Linked DNA regions of Homo sapiens. The protein of the gene in region 4 purifies or fractionates together with the protein of the main gene of each other region. This does not show direct contact. Each region holds a gene or a part of one and is shown on either strand. Other genes may lie near its edges. The genes, in order: KIF5B, CCT6B, NUP160, NUP43, TPRKB, KLC4 and RGPD8.

Evidence for each region.
Region 1: the proteins of NUP43 (region 4) and KIF5B purify together in Homo sapiens (affinity purification with mass spectrometry; 3 studies listed by BioGRID and IntAct, with this or other methods). This does not show direct contact.
Region 2: the proteins of NUP43 (region 4) and CCT6B purify together in Homo sapiens (affinity purification with mass spectrometry; 3 studies listed by BioGRID and IntAct, with this or other methods). This does not show direct contact.
Region 3: the proteins of NUP43 (region 4) and NUP160 purify together in Homo sapiens (affinity purification with mass spectrometry; 7 studies listed by BioGRID and IntAct, with this or other methods). This does not show direct contact.
Region 5: the proteins of NUP43 (region 4) and TPRKB purify together in Homo sapiens (affinity purification with mass spectrometry; 4 studies listed by BioGRID and IntAct, with this or other methods). This does not show direct contact.
Region 6: the proteins of NUP43 (region 4) and KLC4 purify together in Homo sapiens (affinity purification with mass spectrometry; 4 studies listed by BioGRID and IntAct, with this or other methods). This does not show direct contact.
Region 7: the proteins of NUP43 (region 4) and RGPD8 purify together in Homo sapiens (affinity purification with mass spectrometry; one large-scale study listed by BioGRID and IntAct). This does not show direct contact.

The regions. Positions count from the first base shown.
Region 1 is NC_000010.11:32,018,426-32,021,925, reverse strand, and holds part of KIF5B (kinesin-1 heavy chain), read left to right. Parts: intron 1-638; coding exon 639-700; intron 701-794; coding exon 795-904; intron 905-1,526; exon of another isoform or gene 1,527-1,966; coding exon 1,967-2,068; exon of another isoform or gene 2,069-3,363; coding exon 3,364-3,424; exon of another isoform or gene 3,425-3,500. UniProt on the Homo sapiens protein: Microtubule-dependent motor required for normal distribution of mitochondria and lysosomes. Can induce formation of neurite-like membrane protrusions in non-neuronal cells in a ZFYVE27-dependent manner.
Region 2 is NC_000017.11:34,927,361-34,930,460, reverse strand, and holds the end of CCT6B (T-complex protein 1 subunit zeta-2), read left to right. Parts: intron 1-1,426; coding exon 1,427-1,499; intron 1,500-2,343; coding exon 2,344-2,413; 3' UTR 2,414-2,600; downstream 2,601-3,100. UniProt on the Homo sapiens protein: Component of the chaperonin-containing T-complex (TRiC), a molecular chaperone complex that assists the folding of proteins upon ATP hydrolysis.
Region 3 is NC_000011.10:47,810,351-47,813,850, forward strand, and holds part of NUP160 (nuclear pore complex protein Nup160), read right to left. Parts: intron 3,066-3,500; coding exon 2,966-3,065; intron 2,698-2,965; coding exon 2,532-2,697; exon of another isoform or gene 2,517-2,531; intron 2,080-2,516; coding exon 1,952-2,079; intron 1,875-1,951; coding exon 1,714-1,874; intron 1-1,713. UniProt on the Homo sapiens protein: Functions as a component of the nuclear pore complex (NPC). Involved in poly(A)+ RNA transport.
Region 4 is NC_000006.12:149,726,673-149,729,529, forward strand, and holds part of NUP43 (nucleoporin Nup43), read right to left. Parts: exon of another isoform or gene 2,847-2,857; coding exon of another isoform or gene 2,818-2,846; exon of another isoform or gene 1,889-2,817; coding exon of another isoform or gene 1,848-1,888; exon of another isoform or gene 1,808-1,847; intron 1,807-1,807; coding exon of another isoform or gene 1,718-1,806; exon of another isoform or gene 527-1,717; coding exon 297-526; 3' UTR 1-296. UniProt on the Homo sapiens protein: Component of the Nup107-160 subcomplex of the nuclear pore complex (NPC). The Nup107-160 subcomplex is required for the assembly of a functional NPC.
Region 5 is NC_000002.12:73,731,860-73,734,345, reverse strand, and holds part of TPRKB (EKC/KEOPS complex subunit TPRKB), read left to right. Parts: intron 1-1,641; exon of another isoform or gene 1,642-1,645; coding exon of another isoform or gene 1,646-1,762; intron 1,763-2,060; coding exon 2,061-2,183; intron 2,184-2,486. UniProt on the Homo sapiens protein: Component of the EKC/KEOPS complex that is required for the formation of a threonylcarbamoyl group on adenosine at position 37 (t(6)A37) in tRNAs that read codons beginning with adenine.
Region 6 is NC_000006.12:43,066,131-43,069,630, forward strand, and holds part of KLC4 (kinesin light chain 4), read left to right. Parts: intron 1-175; coding exon 176-395; intron 396-865; coding exon 866-953; coding exon of another isoform or gene 954-1,022; exon of another isoform or gene 1,023-1,267; intron 1,268-3,500.
Region 7 is NC_000002.12:112,395,646-112,399,145, reverse strand, and holds part of RGPD8 (RANBP2-like and GRIP domain-containing protein 8), read left to right. Parts: intron 1-867; coding exon 868-1,047; intron 1,048-1,140; coding exon 1,141-1,224; intron 1,225-3,500.

The DNA.
Region 1 (3,500 bases), on a different chromosome or scaffold from region 4:
ATCTTGACTCACTGCAACCTCCACCTCCTGGGTTCCAGTGATTCTCCTGCTGCAGCCTCCCTAGTAGCTAGGACCACAGGCACATGCCCCCACGCCTGGCTAATTTTTTACCTTTTTTGTAGAGACAGGGCTTCACCGTGTTACGCAGGATGGTCTTGATCTCCTGACCTCGTGATCTGCCTGCCTTGGCCTCCCAAAGTGCTGGGATTACAGGCATGAGCCACTGTGCCTGTCAAAACATATATATATATATTTTTAAGATTTTGTTTGAATATGGAAATAGCCAATCTGGGGATTTCCCACAGTTACGAAGCGGGGTGTGTGTGTGTGTGTGTCTTAACATAGGGGACTTAGGAGTTATCTCATTTCTTTACCATTCCCTTAACTAATCTGTTCTGGATTAGGCCAAAAAAAAAAAAACCAAACAAACCATAAAGGAATACATAATACCAACACAATGGATGTAACTTGTATACTAGTCTACATGTCATTGAACTTGGAGAGCAGGTGACATTTGGGTAATTTGAAGTTGAATATTGCTAAGGAAAATGCTTATTGTAAAATCCATTTGCTCCTTGGTTTATATGAGGAACCTTAAAGGCTTATTTCACTCTTCTATTTTCTCTCTATTCAAACAGAGAAAGTCCATGAAATGGAAAAGGAGCACTTAAATAAGGTTCAGACTGCAAATGAAGTTAAGGCAAGTTTGATGTCACATTTCTAACAGCTTTAATTAATCAGTATTAATTTTGATTAGTCTGACTTTAACATCCTTTTCCCCCCCAAAATTTTAGCAAGCTGTTGAACAGCAGATCCAGAGCCATAGAGAAACTCATCAAAAACAGATCAGTAGTTTGAGAGATGAAGTAGAAGCAAAAGCAAAACTTATTACTGATCTTCAAGAGTAAGTATTATACTTCTCTAGTTAGGAGGAAAGAATCGGTTACTGATGGTCATGGTATATATTCTTATTAGAAACCTGCAGTTTTCATCAAAATTACATTTTTATCTTGGAAAATAAAGAATTTTCTCATTTATGAGTAAAACTTCTAAATTCCAGGTGAAATTTTTGAGGCTTTTTTTTAGGTCTTTTGATCTAAATTATTCAGTAAAAGAAAAAAATCCCCAACCTAAGTCTATTATTGCATACCACAGTCTTCTCCAAATCCTTTATTTAGTTTCCTTTTTTAAAAAAATTCTTGGCTGGGTGCAGTGGCTGATGGCCTGTGACCCCAGTGCTTTGGGAGGCTGGGGTGGGAGGATCACTAGAAGTCAGGAGTTCAAGACCAGCTGGGCAACATAGTGAGACTCCATCTCTACAAAAAATAATTTTTTAAATTAGCTGAGCTTGGTGGCACATGCCTGTAGTCCCAGTGACCCAGGAGGCTGTGGCACGAGGATTGCTTGAGTATTGGAATCTGAGGCTGAAGTGAGCTATGATTGTACTACAGCCTGGGTGACAGAGCGAGACCCTGACTCAAAATTCTTAACTGGGAAAAACTTTTCTGGAAATTCTATGGATTTTCAAAGGTTTTTTTTTTTTTAAGTTGTCATCTTAGTTTATCTAGAAGCAATTTCCCTGCCTCCATAACCATGTGCACATACATAGAGTTTATGGAAGTCAGAGTTTGCAACAATTTGAGTAGGAACCAAGAAGAGAATAACATAACAAAATAATGATGAGGTTTGGGGCGTAGGTCTTACTATGAATACCTGATGGAAGTAGGCATAAGGATTCAGGAAGATGAAAGACAGAGGAGAACAGAATCATGATTTCAAACCAAAATACGAAAAATTTTGTATGTCCACAAGTAGCCAGGTCCCTTTCCTCTTTTCCTCCATAGGGTATAGGATAACAGAAAAGTCCTTGATGAGATTATAGAATTTAAAAGTTTGGAAATTTTAATGATGACATTGAGAAAACTGTGATATTGATACTGTGTTAATTATTTTTTTCTTTCGTCAGCCAAAACCAGAAAATGATGTTAGAGCAGGAACGTCTAAGAGTAGAACATGAGAAGTTGAAAGCCACAGATCAGGAAAAGAGCAGAAAACTACATGAACTTACGTGAGTAATTGTTTTTAATTAAAGTTTAAAAATAAAAGCTAAATTAGAGGATTATAGGCATTACCTTTGGATATAGCCAGTGGATACATATTTTACTTTGTATGGGCTAAAGGATTTTTTCTTAAATCCACTGAGTTGGTTTGATTTATATCTAAATACTTGGAATATATACTTGCATTTGAGTGAAAGCAAGGTCTTATATTTCATTGTGGTTAAGATTAAGGTTTCTCTTTATTAATCTGCTTGCTGTTTCTTTATCTCCATATTACTTCAGGATCCAGCATAAAAATGAACCTAAAACAATATATTAAGTAACTTCGAAGATTTTAAGATCTAACACAAAAACTGAGTTTTTGTTAAATTTTCTCTTGCATAAAAGAGCATTGTGGTGTTTAGCCTTGCCATTTTGAACAGAGGTTTTCATGGTTTACCTTTTCTCATTTTCTCAAAACTCAGTTTTCTAGAATCTTAGCAGGTAGAAAGTGCATGATTATAATTTTTCACATACCTTGAGTTTGTGAGACAATTTGCAAATCAACTGATATTGTTAGGATAGTTAGAACATCAGGACCAGTTCAGAGTGGATTATATGAAGATTCTGCTAACTTGCAGCTGTAATTTTGTTTAGAATACTTGTAATGTAAAATATTTTAGTCTTTGACAGTTTATAATCTATAATTAATCAGTATCATTTTGGATAAATAGCAGTATAATACATGTGGCATATTTTAAAATATAAATTATAGAACTATTCCTTATTCTTTGAATTCTGCCACATTTTATTTCATCTCTTCCATTGCTATATATGGAATGTATAACAATAGACTGTTGTTTAGAAGGCATATGAAAATTTTTTGAAATTGCAAAGCTGCAGTGGCTCACACCCATAATCTCAGCACTTTGGGAGGCCAGGGCAGGAGAATCAGTTGAGCCCAGTGTTTGAGAATCAGCCTAGGCAATATAGTGAGACCCCGTCTCTACAAAAATTTTTTTAGACAGGGCTGATTGTACATGCCTGTAGTCCCAGCTATTTGGGAGACGAGGTGAGGAGGATCACTTGAGCCCAGGAGGTTGAGGTTGCAGTGAGCAGTGTTTGGGACAGAAACTCTGTGTCAAAAAAAAAAAAATTTTTTTTTTGAAAGACAGCACAGGTAAATTGTTTAAAATAGGCATCTTGTATTTATTTAAATTTAAGAATTTATCCTTTCAGACACAAAATATTTTATTCAACTCTCATGCTAAGTACAATATACAGAATAAAATTTGAAAATATATGTTTGTTCTTCTACTGTTAGGGTTATGCAAGATAGACGAGAACAAGCAAGACAAGACTTGAAGGGTTTGGAAGAGACAGTGGTAAGAAAAACATGAAAATAAACAGGATTGGGAAATATTTTGTGGGTTTTTTCTACCATGATTATTCTAAATTTAA
Region 2 (3,100 bases), on a different chromosome or scaffold from region 4:
TTCTAGGGAAAGAGAACAGCCAGTGGAAAAGCCAGTGTCTGATGTTTCTGAGGAAGGAGGTGAGAGAGGTGACAGAAGGTCAGATCATGCAGGGGCATTTGGACCAGTCTCAGGACTTTGGCTTTTACTTTAGAGGAGCAGGGAGCAATTTTGAGCAGAGGTGTGACATGGCCTAATTAATTAATTTATGAGACAGTCTCGTTCTATCACCCATGCTGTGGAGTGCAGTGGCACGATCTTGGCTCACTGCAACCTCTGCCTCCCAGGTTCAAGCAATTCTCCTGCCTCAGCCTCCGGAGTAGCTGGGAATATAGGTGTCTGCTGCCACGCCCGGCTAATTTTTGTATTTTTAGTAGAGACAGGGTTTCACCATGTTGGCCAGGCATGTGGCCTAATTATGTTTAAGAGAATCACTCTGGCCACTCTCCACTTTGTAGAGAAGTCAACTGAACAAGTAGAAGGTTGGAGTTGCAATCAACTGTGGTGGAGAATACTGGCTGGAGCAGGTTGTGGGTGAGAGGACATCAGCATTCAGTTTTGGCAGAGTCAAAGTTGAAGCATCTGTAATCTTTTAATTAAAAAAGTTGGATATATGGGTCTGGAGTTCAAGGAAGAGGTCTGGGTTGGAGATTAAAACCTGAGAGTCAGGCCAGGCGCAGTGGCTCACGCCTGTAATCCCAGCACTCTGGGAGGCCAAGGTAGGTGAATCACTAAAGGTCAAGGGTTCAAGACCAGCCTGGCCAACATGGTGAAACCCCATCTCTACTAAAAATGCAAAAATTAGCCGGGGATGGTGGCAGGCCCCTATAATCCCAGCTACTTGGGAGGCTGAGTCAGGAGAATTGCTTGAACCCAGGAGGTGGAGGTTGCAGGGAGCCGAGATGGCACCACTGCACTCCAGCCTGAGTGACAGAGCAAGATCTCTGTCTCAAAAACAAAAACAAAAAACACCAAAAAAAAAAAAAAAAAGAAAGAAAACAAAAAACAAAAACACCCAAAAAACCTTGAGAGTCATCAGATGTGTATGGTTTAAATCTAAAAGTCTGGATGAGATCACCTAGGGATTAAGGGTAGAGAGAAAAGAGGCTGGGACTGAACTTTTGGGTACTCCAACGTTAAGAGGTCAGGGAGGAAGAGGAAGAAGCAGCAAAGTAATCAGAAAAGGAGCCACTAATGCAAAAGAAAGAAAACCAGAAGAGTGTGGTATCCTGGAAGATAACATAGAGTAGGCGGCAGAATGTGATCAACTGTGTTAAATACTGGTAGATGAGGTCTGAGAATCAACCATTGGATTTAACAATATGGAGGTCATTGATGACCTTGACAAAAGTAGTTTTGGTAATGTATTAAATATTTTTAGAAGATATCAATTAATATTAATAGCAAATACTAAGATTTTGGTATGAAAATTGTTTTTACTTTTCAGGTGAGCCAATGGTAGCAGCAGATGCAGGAGTTTGGGATAATTATTGTGTAAAAAAACAACTTCTTCACTCTTGGTAAGTTCATATGAACATAAAGTGAAAGACCTGTAGAGTTATAATTGATAATATTAAGATGAAATTTTTTCTATTATTTTTGTCCCTGTACAGTGGAAAAATTGTCAAGTGTATGAAAGGTGTGGTATTCAGTTATTAGAACTAGCTTCTGTCATTTTATAGTCCATAGTCCCTTTTATATTTTAGATCTAGCAGTGTTAAGTTCTAAGAAAAATTAACCTTACTATTTGAGGGGGAAAGAAAAGGGGAAATTTACTGAAATAATAGCACATGCATGATGGAGAAAATCAAATGATATTGTAAAAATAAGCTCAATTTTGCTGAAATATAAATCAGGAATGCACTTTATCAGCAAAGGAGTTTAAATTATAATACAAAGGGTGACATTTGGGCCAGTGCGGTGGCTCACACCCGTAATCCCAGCACTTTGGGAGGCCGAGGCGGGTGAATCACCTAAGGTCAGGAGTTCGAGACCAGCCTGGCAAACATGGTGAAACCCTGTCTCTACTAAAAATACAAAAATTAGCCAGGCGTGTTGGTGGGTGCCTGTTATCCCAGCTACTCGGGAGGCTGAGGCGGGAGAATTGCTTGAACCTGGGAGGCAGAAGTTGCAGTAAGCTGAGGTCTTGCCATTGCACTTCAGCCTGGGCAACAAGAGTGAAACTCCATCTTGGGAAAAAAAAAAAAGGTGACATTTGTATTTGTATTTATAATAGCCTTGTCTCATAAAACATCATACTAACATCATTAAAGAACAAAGTACCCTACATAGGTAAAGATTGCTGGGGAAAAAAGCTAAGAGTGGGTTAGTAGGCTTTACTCACCCTCTCATCTTTTTCCTTAGCACAGTGATTGCCACCAACATTCTCCTGGTTGATGAAATTATGCGAGCTGGGATGTCTTCTCTCAAATGATGATTGAATTCAAAATCAACCCTTCTAGAAGATGAAATTTAGTACACTTTACATCTGACTACTATTGTGTAGCCTGAGCCATTCTGAATTTCTACACAATAAATGCAGTTTATGTCTTTTGGGTCTTAATAGTCTCAAAAATATTTCATCAAGGTATAAAGAACACAATAAATACTTTTACAGTAAAGGAATAATATTTAAATATTTCCCCAAGAGTCCTAACTCCCCACTCTTTGTTATATGCTATTGCAGTTTTTATAGCATAGGATCTTTATGATACTTAGACCTTTTGACAAGTTTTAATTAACAAAATAGAGGTTTTAGTACACCCAAGTAAATTTCCAATTTATCAGAGGGTATAAATATAGTAGGACAGAATGTTTCATTTTCTCTCAAAATTCTTTCAGTGACTTTTTGCTGCCACTCTTTCCTCTTATAAATATGGCGTGTAGCTTTGGGTTGCATTGTTTATAATATCTGACTCAATTTATTTTGTATATCATTTATTATATTTTATCTGGCTGTTTTTGTATGTATGATCAACAATTTATGCCACTGTGCTAGCTCTGGTAGCTCTCTGTCTAGATGGTGAGATAGAACAGGTCTCATCTGGAAAGAGAATTATTGACACCAATGGTGGGAAATAATTATTTTTGGCTTATAATACAACTGTTCAGTATAGATATT
Region 3 (3,500 bases), on a different chromosome or scaffold from region 4:
CCATGCCCGGCTAATTTTTGTATTTTTTTGTAGAGATGAGGGTTTGCCCAGACTGGTCTCAAACTTCTAGGCTCAAGCAACCAGGCCACCTTGGCCTCCCAAAGTGCTGGGACTATAGGTATGAGCCACCACATCTGGCCTTTTTCTTACTCTTGCTTGAAATTCTACCATTAGCGATGTATCTGGGTTTATAATTTCTTTTTTTTTTTTTTTGGAGACAGAATCTCGCTCTGTCACACACGCTGGAGTGCAGTGGTGCAATCTTGCCTCACTGCAAACTCTGCCTCCTGGGTTCAAGTAATTCTCATGCCTTAGCCTCCTGAATGGCTGGGATTACAGGAGTGTGCCACCAGACCCCGCTAACTTTTTTGTTTTAATAGACATGGAGTTTGGCCATGTTGGCCAGGCTGGTCTCGAACTCCTGGCCTCAAGTGATCTGCCCACCTCAGCCTCGCAAAGTGCTGGGATTACAGGTGTGAGCCACTGTGCCCAGCCTGAGTTAATACATTCTGACTTAAAATGTATAAGTACATTTATACATTTTAAGTCAGAATTAAAATGGGAGCCCCAAAGGACTTTTGGCTATTTACACATTAATATGAATTGGTTTAATTAGATTCCTTCTTTGACAGGCTCAAATGAGATTACTGACTTAGAAAAAAATGGGATGTCTGACTGTGGGGAGAAAAATAATTTCTTAGCATGGGACATTCAGTAGGGTGGGTGATTAGGACTATATATTAGCAACAAGAGTCTGGTGGTCTAAGAAGAACAGAATGAAAAAGAAAGCACAGAATAGAGTTAGGAGGACCACAAAGATAAACCTGCATCTCAAAACTGTGTTTAGGGTAAGCCTTGCACTGTAGAGAGTTCTTAGGTTGGGCAAGGTGGCTCATGCCTGTAATCCCAGCACTTTGGGAGGCCGAGGTAGGTGGATCACCTGATGTCAGGAGTTTAAGATCAGCCTGGTCAACATGGTGAAACCCTGTCTCTACTAAAAATACAAAAATTAGCCGGACACGGTGGCACGCACCTGTAATCCCAGCTACTCAGGAGGCTGAGGCAGGAGAATTGCTTGAGCTGAGATAAGGCCACCACACTCCAGCCTGGGCAACAGAGCAAGATTGTCTCAAGAAAAAAAAAAAAAGAGAGAGAGACAGGAAAAAAAAAGAGTTTTCTTTTTCTTCCTCCATACTAAAGGGTATGCTTACCACATTCATAGTTACTAATAATACTACATTTTGGGAGAGCCAACTTGGGAAAATTTTCCACTACTACACATACAAAGGTTAAGAGTAAAGCAATCTGCTTCATGTATGTTTTTTAAAATCTACTGTTAAGTTCCAGGGTACATGGGCAGGATGTGCAGGTTTGTTACGTAGGTAAACGTGTGCCATGATGGTTTGCTGCACAGATCAACCCAACACCTAAGTATTAGGCCCAGGATCCATTAGCTATTCTTTCTGATGTTCTCCCTCCCCACCGTCCCCTCCATATATGCTCTTAATCTATACTCTCACAAGGATTACAATGCTTATTCATTCTTAATTCAAAAATATTTATAGAGCATCTCATAAGGCCAAGCTTGGGAGAATAAAGCAGTGAACCAAGACAAAAGTATCTGTGCTAGTAGGGCTGACATTTTGCTCCTAAGTGCTTGTAGGCCTATAACAGGTTTTAGATTTTACAAGTTTTCCCTCAAGCAGTACTTACAGCATCTCCAAGCCTCATTAACAGCTGCTGTAAGATCAAAAGATCTCTGCAGATCAGGAAACGAGTACTGGCGATTTTATGCACCCCTCTGCACACAATATACCCTGCTGTGTTACTACCATAGAGCTGGGTAAGATTCATTCGAATATTCAAAGGCTGAGCTGTAAAAAGAAGAAAAATGGAGTTGAATGCATCATTGTTTTAATCAAAGAGGCACATTTGTTGTTCTGTCATTTACCTGGATTGAATCCCTTTTCCATTTCCACTTCTGTTTCATAATCCATTTCCCGTATAAGTAGTCCAATTGCATGGATTGGGTTCCTAATCTCTTGCAGTTTACTACAAATATCCTCCATCACATTTTCTCTATAAGGACAATTACAAAACTCTTATTACTACCGAGAATACGTAAGGCAAGTTCTATATGTCCTATAAGCTAAATACATTATGAAACAAGAGAACCAGATAAAGGAATGAAGATAATCACTCTGGCATATAAGATACAGTCCCTATGCATAGCAAATTTCCTCTCAGTTTTTCATAAACAACACACAAAACAAACATGAGAAGAACACTTTTGCTTTTTAGAATTTTTAGCTCGGTTAATTGTTAAAGCATATTTTATAAGTCTATTTCTAGACTTGAAGTCGTGTTAAATTTTCTGTTAAAAGTAGAAATATGTACTTAGAATCATGGCGCATCAGTTTGACTTTAAGCTACTATTCTGTACGCTCTGGAACATACATTAAAATTCCAACTTTGGCGCTAAAAATGCTGAATTTCCATTAGGAAATGCACTTTACCCTAATTCTCCTTACACATCAATAGTGATCATATCTTCCAGAATCTGCTCTGCAGCCTTTTCCGGAGACTGTAGGTTATAACAACTCATTTCCATTATAACTGACATATCCACAGTTACTGACTCTTCAATCAGCCGGAGGCATTTTATAAGACATATGACATCCCGAGCGATGTCCACATCTACAAATAAGAGAAAGTTAACATTTATGTCTTAAGCCAATGACAATCTATTGATTGATATTACATTAAAATGTTAATAATTAAATGACAAGAAATCTATCTGAGGTCTCAGAGATGCTTTGGTCTCTTAAGTGTTCATTAAAATATTTGTGGTGTGGTAAAGTGACCAAGACAGGTGTGGCAATCGATATTTTTTGTATCCATGTGAAACGAAGCATAGGGTTTATATAGGAAGGGGATTAAATATGGACATAACAATTACTATTACCATCAGATATGGTTGTCTCATCTTCTGTCAAAAGGTTCTCATAAGGCAGGAGATACAAATGATCCACTAAGGATGAGGGAATAAGGAAAGACAGGTACCCCTGGAAATACAAATTTTCCAGTTACATTTTTGTCAGTAAAATTTTAAAGGTATAAAATAATTGAGATGTGCATCTTATCATGAGGCAAACCCAAGTTGCAATACACTCTATAAAATAATAGGTGTAAGTCTTGGCTGGGCACAGTGGCTCACATCTGTGATCCCAGCAGTTTGGGAGGCTGAGGTGGGAGGATCACTTGAGCCAAGGAGTTCAAGACCAGCCTGGGCATCATGATGAAACCCCATCTCTAAAAAAAAAAAATTAGCCAAGTGTGGTGGCACACAGCTTTAATTCTAGCTGCTAGGGAGGCTGGGGTGGGAGGATCACCTGAGCCTGGGAGGTTGAAGCTGCAGTGAGCCTTAAGAGTGCCACTGGGCCGGGCGCAGTGGCTCACGCCTGTAATCCCAGCACTTTGGGAGGCTGAAGTGGGTGGAT
Region 4 (2,857 bases):
AGTTCCACAAGCTGTCTGTCAATAATACTCTGAAGGCAACCTATTCATCAGCACCAGAATCCCACTGATTTTCTTCCACATGTTCACAATCTTTTGCCATCAGTCATCTATCGGATTCTACAACTGTTTGGGAGTGTCAGGCTAACAAAAGTCAAAACTGGGCATTGACATTAATGGTAGTTTACTGATGTTTCCCCTGCAAATCTCGTATTTTCTGATACTAAAATTTTGCACAGAAGTTGGATTTCAAAAGGCTAATTGCATGTTCTATCTGAAATCTTATAATTATAGTACTTCTACGAAAAAAGATGTCTAGTAACATAAATTGCTTCTGCATCGGTTCCACAAACAAGACAAGGACCTAAAACATCCAAAGTGTTCACAGACAGAGACCTACTGGGAAGTAAGCTTGTGATTTCAATTCGGTCTTTTGCAGGATCAGTGCTGAGCCAGGAGCTAATGACAGACTGGTGAACATTAGCTTGGTTACTAATGCTATGAGACAAAAAAGTACTGCTTCTTCCTCCTGGGAGAAAAAAAGAAAAGGAAGAAATCTTTCAAGATGATTTTTATATTAGTAAACATTCAAACTTCTACTGATATTTAGAAAGGTGATGATATCAATGTGTTTAATTCTCAGAATAATAGGCTAATAATTCCATTATTATACATCACCACTTTGGACCAAAGGCTTATTCAGTGATATTAAATATTCAAATTTCCATGGGATAATATGGATACCAAACTCGAAGTCTTCAGGAAAAGCAGGTGATTTCAACTGACTTTCTGTTCATCTTTTAATGGAAAGTCTCAGAAAGGTAGCAAAACGGCCAGCATACAAGTTGAATAAGGAAAGAAAAAAAAGAAACCAAAAATGTAGGTAATACATGGAAATATAAACTCTTGGGTAATAACAAAATAAAATGATCATGAGAAAGAATTTCTAGACATATTTCTAGATGAACATTTCTAGAAATATATTTCTAAATATATATTTGTTACTATATTTCTTAAAATATAATCGCCTTACCTCAAATCTTTCATTCTTATGCTTTTTAGATAAATGTTCTTACAAGCAGATTAGAACACTACTAGATTATAAGGTTTTATCTCTAACAGCGCACTGTACTTACTATAGAATAAAGTGAGGCAGAGGCAGTATATTTCAATTTTAGTCATTATTCGCAACTTACTTTCCTCTCAACTTGCTGTCATATCAAATAAGTACAAATTTAATTCACTCAACAAATGACTGAGTACCTACTATGTGCCAGGCTCTGTGCTAAGTGCTCTGTGCCAAGTCCCTATGTCTTGAAGCTTAAAGATTAGTACATTTAAAATCTTGCTGATCCTTTAAAATATGGCTGAACTTCCTTCTCTAAGAAAACTTTGAAGACAACCTCTACTTCATGTTTTTCTCTTTCCTTGAACCCTCAGCACTTGTATGTACCATTAATTTACTACTTTATAACAATTCTTATATCCTAATTGAACTATCCATGCCTCTGTCCATGACTAAATATGTCTTAAGAGCAGGATGCATATTTTATATGTTTTACTTTTTCACAGTGTCTAATACTGTGCCTTGCAATAGTAGACACAGAATAAAGTTTTATTTCCAGTCTAACCAAGGTTCCTTAAAAGTAAACTTGCAAGTTCAAGACTGTGCGGTTAGGGGAGGAAGGAAGTAAAAACGAAGTACATACTTAGTTAATCCTTAGATGAAACTGTTTGTTTCTCTGTAGATGAAGTTATAGCATGGACATGCATGCATGCTCCACACATGCTCTCCGCTCCAGAATTTTTCTGAAGAAGTTTTAGAATTTTTTTCCCCTTAGTTTTTCTGTTTATCTTTTACTGCCCCTACATTTTACATTGCTCTTGGACGCTGTAAAGATTAACACATTATTCAAGCCACTGTGATAAGACTCCTTCCTCATCTCCCTGTTTTCCACTTTTCTCCTCCCCCTCCCATAAGTCTAAAGTCCTTATCATGGGCTACAAAGTCCCAGGGCTCCTCAGCCACCAGTCCTTATCTCCCACCACTGTACCCTGCTGCCTGAGCTCCAACCGTGGTGTCCTTGCAGTTCTCTGCCTGTCTCAGGCCCTCAGCATTTGCTGTTTCCTCTGCCTGGAATGCTTTCATGTCACTTATGCCTTCACTTCTCTTAAGTCTCTGCTCAAATGTTCCTTCTGCCAAGTGGCCTCTTCTGACTCTCACTAGAGTAGCTCCCCTCACCCCTGTCTTTATTCTTTATCCTCCTACTCTGCTGTATTCTTCTTCATGGTAATTAGCAGTGTATTTGGCCATGTTATTTTCCTTTTTCTTTTTTTTTGAGATGGAGTCTTGCTCTGTTGCCCAGGCTGGAGTGCAGTGGCGTGACCTTGGCTCACTGCAACCTCCAACTCCCGGGTTCAAGCAATTCTCCTGCCTCAGCCTCCAGAGTAGCTGGGATTACAGGCACCCACCACCACGTTCAGCTAATTTTTGTATTTTTAGTAGACACAGGGTTTCACCATGTTGGACCAGGCTGGTCTTGAACTCCTGGCCTCAGGTCATCTGCCCACCTCGGCCTCCCAAATTGCTGGGATTACAGGTGTGAGCCACCGCGCCCGGCCTCCTTTTCCACTTTGCTGTGCTCCACTATATACTGTAGGAGGTAGAAGTTGGTAAACTCCACTTTCCAGGCTGCTTTGCCATCTGCCATCCAGATGGGCCTTGCCAATAGCAGGTATTAATGGTGGGTGACTGGAAGGCGGAAGGGAGAAGCAGCTCCTTCCTGCTCCAGGTTTCTGGCAACAACACTGGTGGTAGTTTCAGCCTGGTTGAGGGAGCGCCTTTTCTCCTAATTCAGAA
Region 5 (2,486 bases), on a different chromosome or scaffold from region 4:
GGGTGGATCATCTGAGGTCAGGAGTTGAAGACCAGCCTGGCCAACATGGTGAAACCCTGTCTCAACTAAAAATACAAAAATTAGCTGGGCGTGGTGGCGGGCGCCTATAATCCCAGCTACTCGGGAGGCTGAGGCAGGAAAATCATTTGAACCCTGGAGGCAGAGGTTGCAGTGAGCCAAGATTGCGCCATTGCACTCCAGCCTGGGCGACGAGCAAAACTCTGTCTGGAAAAAAAAAATGGCCAGGCATGGTAGCTCACGCCTGTAATCCCAGCCCTTTGGGAGGCCGAGGCAGGCAGATCATGAGGTCAGGAGTTTGAGACCAGCCTGGCCAATATGGTGAAACCCTGTCTCTACTAAAAATACAAAAATTAGCTGAGCATGGTGGTGGGCACCTGTACTCAGGAGACTGAGGCAGGAGAATCGCTTGAGCCTGGGAGGCAGAGGTTGCAGTGAGCCGAGATTGTGCCACTGCACTCCAGCCTGGGCAACAGACCAAGAATCCGCCTCAAAAAAAAAAAAAAAAAAAAAGAATGAATGAGCCATACAGGGCATTTAAGTATACATTAATATTTGTGATGTTATAGGGTAGCCTAAAAATCTGTCACGGTTAGGGAAAAAATTCTTGTCCAAGTCAGATGCAGCCAACTTTGACTATAACAGTGAATAGAGGCAGAAGTGCCAGGTCCTGCCCTAGGAAATAGGAAAGGTTGTGGTCTGGGTCTAATATGGGAAATGCCTGGATCTCCAGCTTCTCATCTTTAAAATGGGGGTTCCTAACAAGACAGTCTGTAGAGGAGGAATAGTGTAGTGGTTAAGAGTACACACAGAGGCCAAGGTGGGTGGATTGCTTGAGGCCCGGAGTTTGAGACCAGCCTGGCCTACATAGTGAAACCGTGTCTCTACTAAAAATACAAAAAGTAGCTGGGTGTGGTGGTGTGTGCTGGTAGTCCCAGCTACTCGGGAGGCTGAGGCACAAGAATCATTTGAACCTGGGAGGCGGAGGTTACAGTGAATTGAGATTGAGCCACTGCATTCCAGCCTGGGCAATGGAGCGAGAGACTCTGTCTGTCTCCAAAAAAAAAAAAAAACAAAAAAACAGGGCACACGCAGTGCGATCATGTTACCGGGAATTAATCCCAGACCTACTACTTAGGCCTTTGAACAAGACATAACCAACCTTTATATAGTGCTTACTGCATTCCTAGCATTGTTCCAAGTGCTTTACGTATACTAACTTGCTTAATCTTCACAACAGCCTATGGAGTGAATACTGTTTCATCGGTCTCTAACAAATAAAATGCTAATGAACTTGCATAAGTTTCCTAGGTGATAGGTGACAGAGATGGGATTCAAACCCAGACATTCTTTGCCTCAATTTCCTCATCAATTACATACTACTACTACTGCTACTACTACTAATAATAGTGTCAATTTCATAGGGTAGTTTTGAGGATTAAAGAAAATATTACAAGTAAAATGTTTGCAATATGATCATGCCCATAATATTAGCCCTCAATTAATGTTATTTAAAAAAATTTTACTATTTGCATAAGTTCCTTGCAGCTTTAAAATTCTGTGATTTCCTGACTACCCAGGCCCTTGGGATAATAGTTGTTTTTTGTTTTTTTTTTTTTTGAGACAGTTTCACTCTTGTTGCCCAGGCTGGAGTGCAATGGCGCGATCTTGGCTCACGGCAACCTCTGCCTCCCGGGTTCAAGCAATTGTCCTGCCTCAGCCTCCTGAGTTGCTGGGATTACAGGTGCGTGCCACCACGCCTGACTAATTTTTGTATTTTTAGTAGAGAGGGTTTCGCCGTGTTGGCCAGGCTGGTCTTGAACCCTGACGTCAGGTGATCTACCCACCTTGGCCTCCCAAAGTGCTAGGATTACAGGTGTGAGCCACCGTGCCCAGCCGGGATAATAGTTTTGAAAATACAGACCGTAAGAATTGTGATGAAGTAAAACAGCTTGACACTGGAGTTAACCATGAGTTACCATGTGTTTTCAGGCACTGCAGATTCTCCATGTGTAATTAATTCTTTTTCCTTGCTTTGGTAGATTGTTGATCCATTTCAGATACTTGTGGCAGCAAACAAAGCAGTTCACCTCTACAAACTGGGAAAAATGAAGACAAGAACTCTATCTACTGAAATTATTTTCAACCTTTCCCCAAATAACAATGTAATGTGCACTTTCCTATTTCTGTTGACCGTGTCATAATAACATATGTGTTCCTCAGTGTTGGGTTGGAGGCTAAATTCCTGCAAGCCAGTGGTTAGTAATAAACCCAAATAATAGTGAAGAGAGCTCTGGACAGAGAGTTGAGGTTTAACCCTGCCTCTTACTAAGACAGTTTACATATGAGTAAACAAAAATTTAGCTAAATTAAGCGAGGTTAATTTTATCTGTTCTTACCATATAGGGTCAGGAAGACCCCTCAAGTATTTTTGCTTGAGAAGCTGACAGAAATCTAAATGATAAAAC
Region 6 (3,500 bases), about 110 Mb from region 4:
GTGATGGGCATAGGTCAAGGGAGTGGATAAAAGAATAGCACTTGAGGCAGGTCTAATATTGAGAGTCCAGGTTGGGGTGGGCACAAGTATGGAACAAGACATGCAATGGGGAGTGGAAGGGCAGACAGCAAAGGGGAGAGGAAGAGTCCTTTGTTTATGTTCTGTGATGGTTTAGTGTCCCGTGGTCAAGGTGCTACAGCAGCTCAGCAGGGTGGATATGAGATCCCAGCAAGGTTGCGGACGTTGCACAACCTGGTGATCCAGTACGCAGCCCAAGGTCGCTATGAGGTGGCCGTGCCACTCTGTAAGCAGGCACTAGAGGACCTGGAGCGCACATCAGGCCGTGGCCACCCTGATGTCGCCACCATGCTCAACATCCTTGCTTTGGTGTATCGGTGAGGACTTCCCTCCTCCAGTGCCCAGATCTTCCCCCACATTCCCACCTTGGTCCTCCTTTGGCTTTCATTTTTCCTCTTTACAGGGTACCTCTCCTCCCTGTTGGGCCTCCCAGATACACCCCAACAGGGTGCTTCTTTATGTGCCAGAACTCTCACTTTTCCCATACCTAAGCATTTGCTCATCCCTTGGGATCCTTGTTCCTCTAATCTCTCTTCTGGGGAGTGCTCTCTCCCTCTCTTCCCCCTGCCCCCTTGCTTCTTATAACTTGTGGCCTCCTCTTGGGATGGCAGTGCCCTGCATTCTGGTATGAGTATGTCAGTGAAGCCCCCTTACTGTCCACGCCAGGCTTCCTGTCTCCTCATGGAGGTCTCCAATCCTTAAATGTACTCAGTCCTTCCAAAGGGAAGGAGGGAAGGAGAAGGCTTGCGGGTTCAGGGTAACTCCTGTCACTTTTGTCTTCTTCCAGTGACCAGAATAAGTATAAGGAAGCTGCCCACCTGCTGAATGATGCCCTTAGCATCCGGGAGAGCACCTTGGGACCTGACCATCCTGCTGTCAGTATTCCTTGCCCTCCCCACCCCACGCCCCGCACCCCCCACCATTGCTGTTTTGGCCTCTCTTAGCTCATCCATCTGCTGCCCTCAGTCCACTCACTAAGGGTGCTGAGGAAGGAGGCATAAGAAGTCCTTTCTTCCAGGCACTGTCCAGTGATCCTAATGATTCTCAATTCTCTGAGACTCAGTGACTCCTTTTTATAACAAATATTTTGCTTGAATTTAATTAATAGATAAGTCATAGGTAAATCCACATATGATTTCTACAAAACTTAATATGCTACTCTAATAAATATAAAAGAAAAACAAGAAAAGTAATTTGTAAGGACAATATATACAATGTAATATAATAAGGTAAAAATACAAAACAACAGTAGTTGTATTGAGTACAACTTTGTTAAAAGAAATAGCAAAGTGGCCTGGGCACAGTGGCTCACGAGTGTAATCCCAGCACTAATCCCAGCACTTTGGGAGGCTGAGGAGGGTGGATCACGAGGTCAGGAGATCGAGACCATCCTGGCTAACATGGTGAAACCCCATCTCTACTAAAAAAAATACAAAAAATGCCGGGCGTGGTGGCGGGCGCCTGTAGTCCTAGCTACTCGGGAGGCTAAGGCAGGAGAATGGCGTGAACCCGGGAGGCGGAGCTTGCAGTGAGCTGAGATCGTGCCATTGCACTCCAGCCAGGGTGACAGAGCGAGACTCCGTCTCAAAAAAAAAAAAAAAAAATGAAAATATAGGTGGACAGGCCGGGCGCGGTGGCTCACGCCTGTAATCCCAGCACTTTGGGAGGCCGAGGCGGGCGGATCACGAGGTCAGGAGATCGAGACCATCCTGGCTAAAACGGTGAAACCCCGTCTCTACTAAAAATACAAAAAATTAGCCGGGCGTAGTGGCGGGCGCCTGTAGTCCCAGCTGCTTGGGAGGCTGAGGCAGGAGAATGGCGTGAACCCGGGAGGCGGAGCTTGCAGTGAGCCGAGATCCCGCCACTGCACTCCAGCCTGGGCGACAGAGCGAGACTCCGTCTCAAAAAAAAAAAAAAAAAAAAAAAAAAAAGAAAATATAGGTGGACACTTTATTAAAGTACAGTATTATAAGAAATCACAAGGGTCGGGCACAGTGGCTCATGCCTGTAATCCCAGCACTTTGGGAGGCCAAGGTGGGCAAATCACGAGGTCAGGAGTTCAAGACCATCCTGGCCAACATGGTGAAACCCCGTCTCTACTAAAAATACAAAAATTAGCCGGGCGTGGTGGGGGGCACTTGTAATCCCAGCTACTCAGGAGGCTGAGGCAGGAGAATCACTCGAAACCAGAAGGTGGAGGTTGCAGTGAGGTGAGATCGCGCCTCTACACTCCAGCCTGGGCAGCAAGAGCAAAACTCTGTCTCAAAAAAAAAGAAAATAAATGACAGACCAGATTTATTTGTGTATAAGAGGAAGAGACTGGGCTTGGTGGCTCACGCCTGTAATCCCACCACTTTGGGAGGCCAAGGCAGGTCGATCACCTGAGGTCAGGAGTTTGAGACCATCCTGGCCAACATGGTAAAACCCCGTCTCTACTAAAAAAAAAATATAAAATTAGCCAGGCATGGTGGCATATGCCTGTAATCCCAACTATTTGGAGACTGAGGCAGGAGAATCATTTGAATCCGGGGGTTGGTGGTTGCAGCGAGCCGAGATCGCACCACTGCACTCCAGCCTGGGCAACAGAGCAAGACTCTGTCTCAACAAAATAAGAAGCGGCCCAGCGCTGTGGCTCACTCCTGTAATTTCAGCACTTTGGGAGGCCGAGGTGGTCGGATCACCTGAGGTCAGGAGTTTGAGACCAGCCTGACCAACAAGGTGAAACCCTGTCTCTACTAATAATACAAAAATTAGCCAGTTGTGGTGGCATGCACCTGTAGTCCCAGGTACTCGGGAGGCTGAGACAGGAGAATTGCTTGAACCCAGGAGGCTGAGGTTGCAGTGAGCCAAGATCGCACCATTGCACTTCAACCTGGGTGATGGGGTGAGACTTCATCTTAAAATAAATAAATAAATAAATAAATATAAATAAAAGGAAAGAGAGAAACAACCTTAAGTAGAGATATCACGCCAAGGCAAATGATAGAGTTGTCAATGTACAGAAAATGAAAAATGAAAAGTTTGTTTGTTTTGTTTTGTTTTGTTTTGTTTTTTGAGATGGAGTTTCGCAGTGTCACCCAGCCTATAGTGCAGTGGTACAATCTGGGTTCACTGTAATCTCTGCCTCCCAGGCTCAAGTGATCCTCCTGCCTCAGCCTCCCAAGTAGCTGGGATTACAGGTACGTGCTACCACGCCAGGCTAATTTTTGTATTTTTAGTAGAGATGGGTTTTCACCATGTTGGTCAGGCTGGTCTTGAACTCCTGACCTCAAGTGATCCACCTACCTCAGCCTTCCAAACTGCTGGGATTACAGGTGTGAGCCACCACACCCAGCTGAAAAGTTATTTATTTTTTGTTGAGATAGAGTTTCACTCTTGTTGCCAGGCTAGAGTGCAACATGGCACGATCTTGGCTCACTACA
Region 7 (3,500 bases), on a different chromosome or scaffold from region 4:
GTAATTTCAAAAATACTCAGTAATATGTTGTTATTAATGCACAGAAGGGATGCGTGTGTCTAAATGCTTAGATTTGCTTGCTTTGTCTTAGGTTTGGTGTGTCTTTTTAAACTTGGGAATCTAGGTATATGCTCTTAAAAAGTACTTCTTGGGGAATTAGAAAAGATTTCTAAGATAAGACATTGATTTTGTTATCTTAGCAGTGTAATCAAAACAAATATTATAACCTCAGGACTAATTCTTAATGAACTTTGCTGAAATTGAAAGTTGTTGCTGACAACTTAAGAGCATTTCTTCTCATCGTCATCAGCCATTATGAACGCCCTTGTTTTCTTGCTGTCAGCTGTTTGAGATTGTCATGATGATGTTAAATTATGTTCAGTCTTCTGAGTGTTTTGTTGATTAATTTGTGTTACTACTCTTTTATTAGGATTTATGTTGTCTGGTGTATTGTAGCATCTGTATTTCTGTCACCATTGAAAATCAGTTAGAAAACATCAGTAACTTATTTTGTTCACTTGGAAAAGCTTTCCAAGTTAACATTCCTCTACAATTATCATGGTTAACAGAAGTAATAGAAAGAGCATGGACTTTAGAATCAGAAGATGTTAGACTGTACAACACTTTTCTGTGTTCCTGAAGAAAAAAATAGAATAAAGACAAAAAAATAAAAATAATAATACAAAACAACAGAAAAACAAAGAAAAAAGATAATTAAAAAACACTTTCACGTGTATTATTATTTAAAGTGTAAAGTGCTTATTAAAGTGACAAAAATGTAAATAAGATAAAATATATCATTTTAGAGTTTTTACTTTTGGAATTTTTTGCAAATGAAAGCCCTTAATTAATGTCTTTTATTTTTAGTTGCCTGTGCCCCTGGAGTCTGTAAAACAGATGCTTAATTCAGTCATGCAGGAACTCGAAGACTATAGTGAAGGAGGTCCTCTCTATAAAAATGGTTCTTTGCGAAATGCAGATTCAGAAATAAAACATTCTACACCGTCTCCTACCAAATATTCACTATCACCAAGTAAAAGTTACAAGGTAAACAGGAAAGAATGGAATCATTTCATTGTGAAATTGTTTCTGTTCTAAGTGTTTTAAATGCTGTTTTGTTATTTTTATTTTTTTTTTCAGTATTCTCCCGAAACACCACCTCGATGGACAGAAGATCGGAATTCTTTACTGAATATGATTTGCCAACAAGTAGAGGCCATTAAGGTAAGTCACTTAATTTCTCTAGCTGTACTTTTTATTCCAAGATTCCTTCCCTGGCTACTCTCTCACTTTTTTTCTGAAGCTGGTCAGAATGTCCCCTTGCCATCCAAATAGTATGGCAAGGGGACATTTTGGTCTTTTTTTTTTTTTTTTAAGACAAGGGTCTTGTTCTGTTGTGCAGGCTGGAGTACAGTGGTATGATCACAGCTTACTGCGGCTTCAACCTCCTAGCTCAAGAGAGCCTCTTGGCTCAGCCTGCCACGAAGCCAGGACTACAGACAGTCACATGCCACCAGGCCCAGCTAATTGTTGTATTTTTTGTAGAGATGGGATTTTGCCATGTTGCCCAGGGTGGCCTTGAACTCCTGGCTCAAACAATCCTCCTGCTTCAGCCTCCCAAAGTGCTGGGATTGCAGGTGTGAGCCACTGTGCCCAGCCTACATACCTCGGTCTTGACCCTTTACCATATTTTGTTTTGTTTTGTTTTGAGATGGAGTCTCACTCTGTTGCCCAGTCTGGAGTGCAATGGTGTGATCTTGGCTCACTGCAACCTCCACCTCCCAGGTTCAAGTGACTCTCCTGCCTCAGCCTCCCGAGTAGCTGGGATTACAGGCACCCGCCACCAGGCCCAGCTAATTTTTGTATTTTTAGTAGACACAGAGTTTCACCATGTTGGCCAGGCTGGTTTTGAACTTCTGACCTCAGGTGATCTGCCCACCTTGGCCTCCCAAAGTGCTGGGATTACAGGTGTAAACCACCGCACCCAGCCCTTTACCATATTTTTGAAAGTACTTTATGTGTCTCTCTCCTCATCTTCCACAAAATTTGAGACCTTCAAAGGTAGAAACTGTTTTATTTAAAATATAAGAGTTCCTGACACAGAGAAGGTTCCCGAGTGATTGAAGTGCTACAATGTACTAATCATACTCTGGTCTATGAGTTCATTCCCAGATTAGCTGTGGATTACATGTGTTTCAAATGTATAGCTAGGAATCGAAAAGTGGTCTGAGCTTCAAAAAGTCTTACTATATTTTAATACTTCCATATGAATTTGACTTAATTATGTAAGGAAATAGTTATGTATATATATCTTATTTTAACAATAGGGTTCAAAGGAGCTTGACTTTTTTGGAATTGGAAATAAAAGTAGGTTCTTTCATGTTTATCAAGCAAGAACTAAATTACTCATACTGCTAAAGTTACATCAAGGATATGCTGATGTGTGGCGATTATTACAGTGTGATCAGCAGCATTTGCAAATTAAGAGAATACTATTTGGTGGGGAAGACATTTTTGAATTTGCACAAAAATTTTGAATGTTAATTCTGTGTAGTCGTGGCCTATGACAATTACATACAATTTTGACTTAACATACAGGTTTCAGGCTCCCAACATTGTATTCTGTGGAAGTATAGTGGAGCACTAGTCCATGAGCTTGAAAAGCTTGGTACTAGTACTGACTCTGCCATTAATTAATGATCTTGGGCCAGTCACTTCCTTTGTGACTGTTTGGCTTCTTATCTTTAAAATGAGAGAATTATTGAAGCCAGTTCTCATCACACTGAATGTTAAAAATTACAGTTACAGCAGTGATTGCAAATTCAAAGCTCTGGTGCGGATACCAACAGTGACTATAAAGTTTTCTAGGTGATTCCACTAGTTTCTTATTTCTTGGATGTGTATGTGTAGCATCTGGACTAGGCACTGTAGATGGATGAATGGGGGAAATTTTATTTAGCTTGAAAATTGAGATAGTTTTGGACCTCATGGTTAGGTCTTTCTGGGAAATTTTTAATTGAAACACTTGTAGAAACAGAAAGCAGACATGCTAGATCTGTCCCTGACCTCACTTGTTAGAACTGATCGGATTCCTGGGCTGATACAGAGAAGTTTGAAACTTTTCAAAATTTACCTGTTTTCTGATACCACTACAATTTCTTTGGAAAAAGAATTTCCTGTTAAGTGTCTGTTTTGTAAGGGGACATTTTGTAGGTTCTAGGGTGTTGGGTATGGTGCTGTCATTTAGTTTTCTTCAGCAGAGATCAGGTAGCCACATAGCTACACTAGACGGCATTGGATCTATCTGCCATCTTGTCAAGGCAGCAGAGTTGTGTTAAGAAAACATTTTTGGAGTCAGATGTGTTTCAAATTCCAGCTGTTATTCCCTGCATCCGTTTCTCTCATTTTAAGATAGGAGCTAATATTGTTTACCTAACAGTGTAGATGGTGTAAAAATTAAGAGTTTAAGTGCATTGGACGTATTATTATATACATAATAA